Homo sapiens: one gene and its partner. The protein of the gene in region 1 interacts with the protein of each later gene in a pairwise test. Each region holds a gene or a part of one and is shown on either strand. Other genes may lie near its edges.

Region 1 (3,826 bases):
TAAGACCACTTACAATGAAAAGAGTTCTACTGAAAACACATATTTCTTCAAAGGATGGCATCTGGCAGTACTTGTCTTGATGTCTGTAGCTGAGAATGGTGAAAGTAATCCCAGTTATCGCAACCAAGGAGCTGATAACATTCATGCCCGTGACACCTTGACCCTGAAAGATAGTTTAAAAATGATAAAATAAATAAGATCGAAACCAAAGCAAAAATATCTTGTAAGAAATTTTTAGTGCTTTTATCTTTCCAGATACTTCTCAGGGAAGAGTTGTTCCATCAGGTCAGTATGATTGGAAGGCTTAATAAACTAAATTCTAACTCATTAAAGTCAGAAGACAAACCAAGTTTTAGAATGGGCTAAGGATGCTCTATGGCTAATGCTAAAGAAAATGTTCATTTTATCCCATTTTATCTCATTTTATCACCACCATCTTTCATAATCTGGAAGCAGTACAATGTGTTAGCAAATATCTTTGCTTGGAAATGAAACCTCATTTCAAGTCCAAGTTTCACTAGGACCTTAGGCAAGTAACCTAATCTCCTGGAATCTCAATTTCTGCCTTTAAAAATGTGAATGTGTCACCTAACTTTTAGGGTAGTATCCATTTATTCATTTATTTCATAAATATTTAATGTGCACCAGATACATGTGAGTACTGCATTAGGCCCTGGAGAAACAAAAATGAACAAAAGAGGTGACATCCTGCAATCATGTGGTTTACAGTCATTCCCTGGGAGAATTCAAGCAATAATCAACAGAATCGTTAACATTTAAAGATGTTAACCTATTTGGACTGGAGTTTAAAGGTGTTTTTTCTTGAACTCATTGTTGCAATAAAAATATTTCACACTGCCCCACCCAATTCCCTTTATTCATTCTTATTTTTTTGGAGGGGGGTGTGGGTGGGTGGGGTAGGTATATCCGAGTTCCTTTACAGGAAGGGGGTCATCTGATTTCTTCCTTCTTACCCACTCCCAGGACTGATATCACTCTTTTAAAGGAAAAACAAAGAAAAGCTTCACATTTCCATTCATCAGGTATTTGCTGTACCTTTATTGATTGTGTTATGACTACCGTGGTGGAAAATACAATGATGCCTTTACACAGCCAGTCCTTTCTGGAAGTTTGTGGCTTGGTGTGGCAAACCTCAGAAGTGTACTTGTGACTTAATGTTTACCTCAATCCCAGGTTTTTATTGCAAATAGGCACTTTGGCAGAAAATGCACAGGAACATATAGATAGGCCATCTCTCTCTTGGTCTTTAGTCCCCTTGTTTTCTCAAGGCTCTATTTTGGCTCCCATAGGACATTTTATAGACTAAGATCTCTAGATAATCAATCCCTCATGTGTATTGGGCTTTACAAAGAACATGCCCAGCCTAGTCTCTTCTGATTCTCATTATACTTTTGTGCTGTAGGAAGGACACTTGTTGTTATCCACATTTTACAGATAAATGGAATTAAGGAAGTAAGTGACTGTGAGCAATCACTTTCACGGTTTGTGGAAGGGCTGTGATGAAAAGCCAGGTCTTCTGATGCCTGGTTCAGCATCCTGCCTCCATCATTCCTGCACACCTCCATCTGCATAGCTCTCAGTGAGTCAGGAGTAGGTTTTCCTTACCCATAGTTTATTTCTCAGCTCTGGAAGGAAGTCAATACAGGGAGAACAGCATTTGGGGCTTCATCTGCATTGTCTGCATGTATTTCCATAAGCAGGGATGGAAACATTTATCTGCCCTCCCCTCAGAATGTCTCTATGCCTTGTAACTATCCCTAGAGGAAACTGGCAGAGGACCATAAGAACAGAGTTCAACTGACTTTCAGAGAGGCCCACATCCCCAGGACCTTAAACAAGATCAGAGTGGTTAGAAAGGAGTATGAACATTTAAGCATCATCTTGCCTTTTATCAGTAATGTCTCATTAAACTCTCAAAATAACCCTTAGAAGTAGGCACTTTTCCCTTCAGGTTAACACAGAAGTGAGTGATAGCCTTGGTTCAATCCTAGAACAATCCAGCATTGATGCCCAAACTCTTTCTTCCAGACCTTGGGCAGGATCTAAAGAAAAGCCTCGGTTGGTATTGGAGATAGGGCTAGGATTGGGAGGAAGAATTAGTGAGAGCTTAGGATTGGTTTTGGTTAGAGCAAGGTTTCTCAACCTTGGTACTATAAACATTTTTTGTTGGATAATTTTTGTGTTGGGGGGAGGCTGCCTTGTGCATTTTAGATGCTTAGAAATGTCCCTGGCCTCTACTCACTTGTTGCCAATAACACCAGTTGTAATGACCAAAAATGTCTTCAGATGTTGTCCAATATTTCTGGGTCCTGGGGGGTGCAGGGCAGGGAATTACCCCTAATTACAAACAATGAATTACAGGGATGCAGAATGGTTTCCAATAAACAACTCTTTTAGTTTACTTGACCAGGGAAATGGGAACAAGTGTAAGAATGTCTGTCAGGCAAACAGTGGCACTGGCAAATAGGAATGATCTGAACTGCAACTTTGATGCATACAGATTTTCCTGAAAGGTAACTTTATTACTAAAGGCTTCATACATAAAGATGATATAAAACAAATAGAAGATTTTAAATTTTATGTAGTTTAAGTGGCTTACCAGAAGTTTTGATTTCTTATCGGTTACTGTGAGGTATCCTGTAAGAATAAACTGTTAAGAAGACAAGAGACAAAAGTTAACAGGTGATGTGTTTGACCACCTTGCAGTATAATTTCCCTTGGATTTGCAAAATATCTGTTTGTGAATCTCCAAGACCATCCCGTTTTTCCACCTGAGCATCAGGGAGTAGGGAAGGTAGGCGTAGGTAGGGTAGGAAGAAACTTTGTGCTGGATTTGCTCAGCACTGAACAAGCGCTCTCTGCCAGGGCCAACTGGGACAGGCAGGCTCCTCTAAGATCCAGAGGACCAGATGTTTGATCCGGCTGGGGCTCCAAAAAGAGATTCCTGAGCTCTGGGCCTTGAAGAGAAGAGGAGGAGCTGTGCCTGTTCTGAGCAGGTGAAGGGAGACTTTCTCAAGGAAGACCCCTCTAAAGGCTGATATGGGGACTGATATCTAGTGTAGTTATCAGAGTCCCTCATTTCCCATGATCGTAGAGCCTAGTACCACCTCAGGAAAATGAGAACTCTGTCACTCCATGTGGAGTCCCTTACTTTTTTAATGTTCTGGGGATGGGAACCTTCTCTGTGGGAACTGGCCTTGGACCTTGGGGACATCTGGGTCTTAGAGTCCAAGGATCTGCAGCTGACTTGCAGAGATCAGAAAGTTACCTTTGATACCTCCCTCCGCTTCACTCCCCACATTGGATTGCCAAGTCCTGTCACTTCTACCTCCGAGTCACTCTCAAGGCTCTCCATCTCTAGCTCCATTGCCACCAAGCTAGTTCGGGAAACTCTTTCCTCATCTGTGTGTTTGTAGCCTCCTCTCATTGGATTCTCCTAGGTTTACTGTTATAATTGAATTAATTTCTCACTCTAAAAACACAATGATACTTCAACAAGTCTTCAAGTGTCACTATCCTCTTTAAAAACGTTCAGTGGCTTTCCCATGCTTTCACATTGAAGTTCCATTTTCTTAACATGACTATAGGGGTTGGCACGACCTGGTTACACCCTACCTTTATAGCCTCATTTTATGCCATCACGATAGATTCATTGGTCTTCTTTTGGTTACTCTTTCCCACATCAAGCCCTTGGCTCATGCTTTATCTTTGCCAGGGATGCTTTCCTTCCACTTCGCCTAGTGAGCAGCTACGCAGAAAGCACTTGCCTGACCTCCATGGTCAGGTGAGTCCTCTATTAAACCCT
Region 2 (3,826 bases), on another chromosome or scaffold:
TCTGCCCTCAAGGCACTTCTAGTCTTTTATAAAAGAGATAAAACAGATAAGTATATGAAAGTAATAAGCATTCTAAGCTAAAAGAGGCAAGGAATGATGAAGTGGAAAGATAAAGTAGGGGGAGGGTGGTCTAGAACCAGGAAAGAGCTTTGAAGATAGATAAAATGTAGTCAGGTACAAAGGGGAAGAAATGCATTCCACGCAGAGAAAAGAATGTGAATGTGATGGAGATGGAAATGGGAGAAACGAGTAACAACAGCATCAACAACTACTACTTCTACCAACAGTGACTGCTCTCAACACGCCAGGCACCAAGTGCTTTATATACTTGGTCTCACTGTATCCTTCCAACAACCCAATGCAGTAGGCACTATAATTATCCTGGTTTTCTGCCCCACCCCGCCCCCTCCCCACCCCTCCCAGAATAGGAAAGGTTTAGGGACATTAAATAATTTGCTCATGGGCACAAAGTAAGTACGTGAACTGGGATTTAGATGATTCTGGAATTCATGTTCTCAGCCATTCTGCTATAGGGCATTGCTAGTGGTTTGGTTTGGCTCAAAGCGATGTTTGTGACAAGTGGGGAGAAATAAGGTCAGAAAGGGAGGTGGACACAAATTGATAGTATACAATTCTAGGCTAAGAATTATGGAAAATTAGACAATGGGGAACCACTGAAGAACAAGATTCTCATATGATGAAGGTTATACTTAAAGAAGATTAATCTATTAATGGGTTGTAAAGAGATCAAAAGTAAGGGAGGGAGAAATAATATTTTTCTGAGTACCTTCTCACTAAGCACCCATTGTCTCATTTACCCTTCAGAATGGCATACTTCATGAGGTAGAAATGACTAACTTCTCTGTGACTGAACTGGAATGACTAACTTTTCTGTGCCTAAACTTTCTCATCTGTCAATTAAGATTAAATTATTTTCTATAAGTCAGACAGCCAGAAGGGCCATCTTCACAATTAGCACTTAGGTCTATCTGACTGCAGAGCCCATGCTCTTTCTACAGTTCTACATTAGGAAGTTTGTGGGAGAGTCACTGCAAAAGACTGACTGAAATCAGGGCCTGAATCAGAATAGTCACAGTAGAAATGGGAATCTGAGTGCTTGGGAGTTCATTAAAGAATAAAGCTAAAATTAAAAAAAAAAAAGAAATGGGGAAAAAGAAGTAAGATGTCATGGAGGTTAAAATTATTAGACTTGGCAACTAATTAGATGTGGCAAACAAAAGGGGGAAAAAAATTCAAAGAAATGTTGAGGTTTTACCTCTAGGTGATCGGAAAGATGAGAGTACTGAGCAACAGATCCACAGGAAGAAACTTAAGTTTGATAAAAAATGGGGACATTTTAACATCATATTTGAGGTGATGGTGGGCCGTGTTTAACAAGCAACTGAAGAATGGAATAGCTGGGAGAAGCAGACGAGGTCTGCAACTGAAGGGAAAGGTTTAAATGAGCGTCAAAGAAAGAAGCAGGCCAAGGGAAATCCTTGGTAAACACTGTCAGTAAGGGATGGAAGAAGAGTCAGGGAAGGCAGATGCAGGAGAATCAAGTGAAACCTAGGAAGGAGAGACCATCAAGAAGAAAGATATGGCTAACAGTGCCTATAGATAGGCCAAAAAAAATCTGACCTTAAAGTAAAAAGTATTAGACTTATTGAACAGGAGATGCTAGGATTCTCCTTAAAATTTTTTTTTTTTTTTCCAGAAAAGTGGTTGAGGGCTTTTTAGATCTCACAAATAAGTGAGAACATGCAATGTTTGTCTTTCTGTGCCTGGCTTATTTTACTTAATGATCTCCAGTTCCCTCCATGCTGTTGCGAATGACTGGATCTCATCTTTTTCATGGATGAACAGTACTCCATTGTGTATATGAACCACATTTTCCTTATCAAATTCAGATTGCAAGAGGTTGAACAACTGGCGATGTTAAGAGGTGGAAGCATTAAGTGAATACTACTGAAGTTAAAGGAGAGAAAAACAGGATGAAAGCTTAACAGAGATAATAGGATTGAGAAAATAATTCTTTTTTCTCTTACAGTGTTGGAGGGAGGGAGGAAGACTTGAATACATACATAGGTGGAATGAAATAATTCAGTGAAGATGAAATAGAAGAATCAAGAAAAAGGAAAAATAATTGATGAAGCAAAGTCCCAGAATAGTCCTTATGACGATTCAAAGAGATGGTACCATTCGAAATCTCAAAGATGCCCACAATGCCTAGGGAAACAGACTGTGGAAGATAAGAGAGAAATTTCAAGTCAGTTCCATCTAAATGAGCCTAATTTATTACTGAAGTGTGACTGAATGAGACTAACAGTCTGGCACAAAAACACACTATTCTTTTCATCAGTGAGGCCCTTCTTTATCATCACCACCTGTAAAAATCATGCATATCCTTCAAGGCTCCAAGACCTGAGTCTTCCTTCTTACCTCTTTTGGAGCATGTATCACATTCTACTTTGTGTTTTACTTATTGGATTGTATTTCCCTTTCTCATTCTGAGTACAGTTAATGTGTTTACTGTATTTCTAAAAAATGCCTCCACAAAATTTAGCATAATACTTTAGAGAAAAAAAATGATAAATACCTGTTGGATTATGAAGGGGATGTGTGTGTGTGTGTGTGTGTGTGTGTGTGTGTGTGTGTGTAAGAAAGAGAGATTAGTAAATCTATTTGGCTTGTGGGCACCAGCCAAAACAGAGCAGCATTTTCAGGCAACTGACAAATTTTCTAGAAAATGATAAAATAGATGAAAAATATACAAGTGTCAAAGAAACTGACAGAAGTGTTTCTATCAGTTTAAACCCTAAATTTAGGGTTTTGTGAAGTTTTTTTTTTAAAGCACAACATAAAAGTAAAAAGACTAACAACACTAAATGTCGGTGAAGATGTTGAGTAATCAAAATGCTCACAAATTGCTTGTTGGGAAAGTAAAATCTTACAACTACTTCAGAAAACTGGCAGTTTCTTAAACAGGCAACCTTTTGACCTATCAATTCCACTCCTAATATTTACTCAAGGGAAATGAAAATATATGTCAACAAAAGGATGAATGTTCATCGTAGCTTTATGTGCAATAACAAAAACTGAAACAAGTTTACGTCCATCAGCAAGAGAATAAATAAACAAATTGTGGTACATTCATACAATGGAATACCGCTCAGGAATAAAAAGGAACAAATTACTGAGACAGGCAACATGTATGTATGACATCATGCTGTGCAAAAGAAGCTGAACACAATAGTCACACAATGTAGTCTTCTTTTATATAAAGTTCTGGAACAAAACAAAGTTCAAGTGGAAAAAAATAAAAACAGTCGTTGTCTAGAGGATGGTGGAAATTGACTGAAAAGGGACACAAAGAAACTTTTCGGGGGAGATGGAAATGTCCTATATTGTGATAAGGGTGTTTAGTAATCATGTCTTTTTATTCTGTATTTTTGATGCTTTGACCTCTTGGGCCTTGCTGACCATGGAAGAACTGCCTCTCCCAGGGATAGCTAATTCCTAGTGATGGCAAACAACTTGTCTGAGTCCACCTTTCATACGCATTCCAATCAATCCAGACTCACACTACCAACCAACTCCTCTACAAGGCTCTCACAGCCAGGGCCATTATTTCCCTATCCCAATCATCCCAGGGCCACATGTCAGACAACCAGAGATAGAACCTATGCCCCAGAGTCCATTGAAATTATTCAAACTAGCCAATCTTAAAACCTCCTTACCCTGCCTCACCCATTCCTTACCACCAAAACCACAATAAAAGTTCTTGCATGCAATGGCAGCAAAAGCCAAAATTGACAAATGGGAT

Evidence for each region.
Region 2: the proteins of MS4A14 (region 1) and SEC22A interact in binary tests that used the Homo sapiens proteins (3 or more experiments, as listed by UniProt).

Annotation. Positions count from the first base shown.
Region 1 is NC_000011.10:60,399,249-60,403,074, reverse strand, and holds part of MS4A14 (membrane-spanning 4-domains subfamily A member 14), read right to left. Parts: intron 2,672-3,826; coding exon 2,621-2,671; intron 164-2,620; coding exon 14-163; intron 1-13. UniProt on the Homo sapiens protein: May be involved in signal transduction as a component of a multimeric receptor complex.
Region 2 is NC_000003.12:123,239,837-123,243,662, reverse strand, and holds part of SEC22A (vesicle-trafficking protein SEC22a), read right to left. Parts: intron 1-3,826. UniProt on the Homo sapiens protein: May be involved in vesicle transport between the ER and the Golgi complex.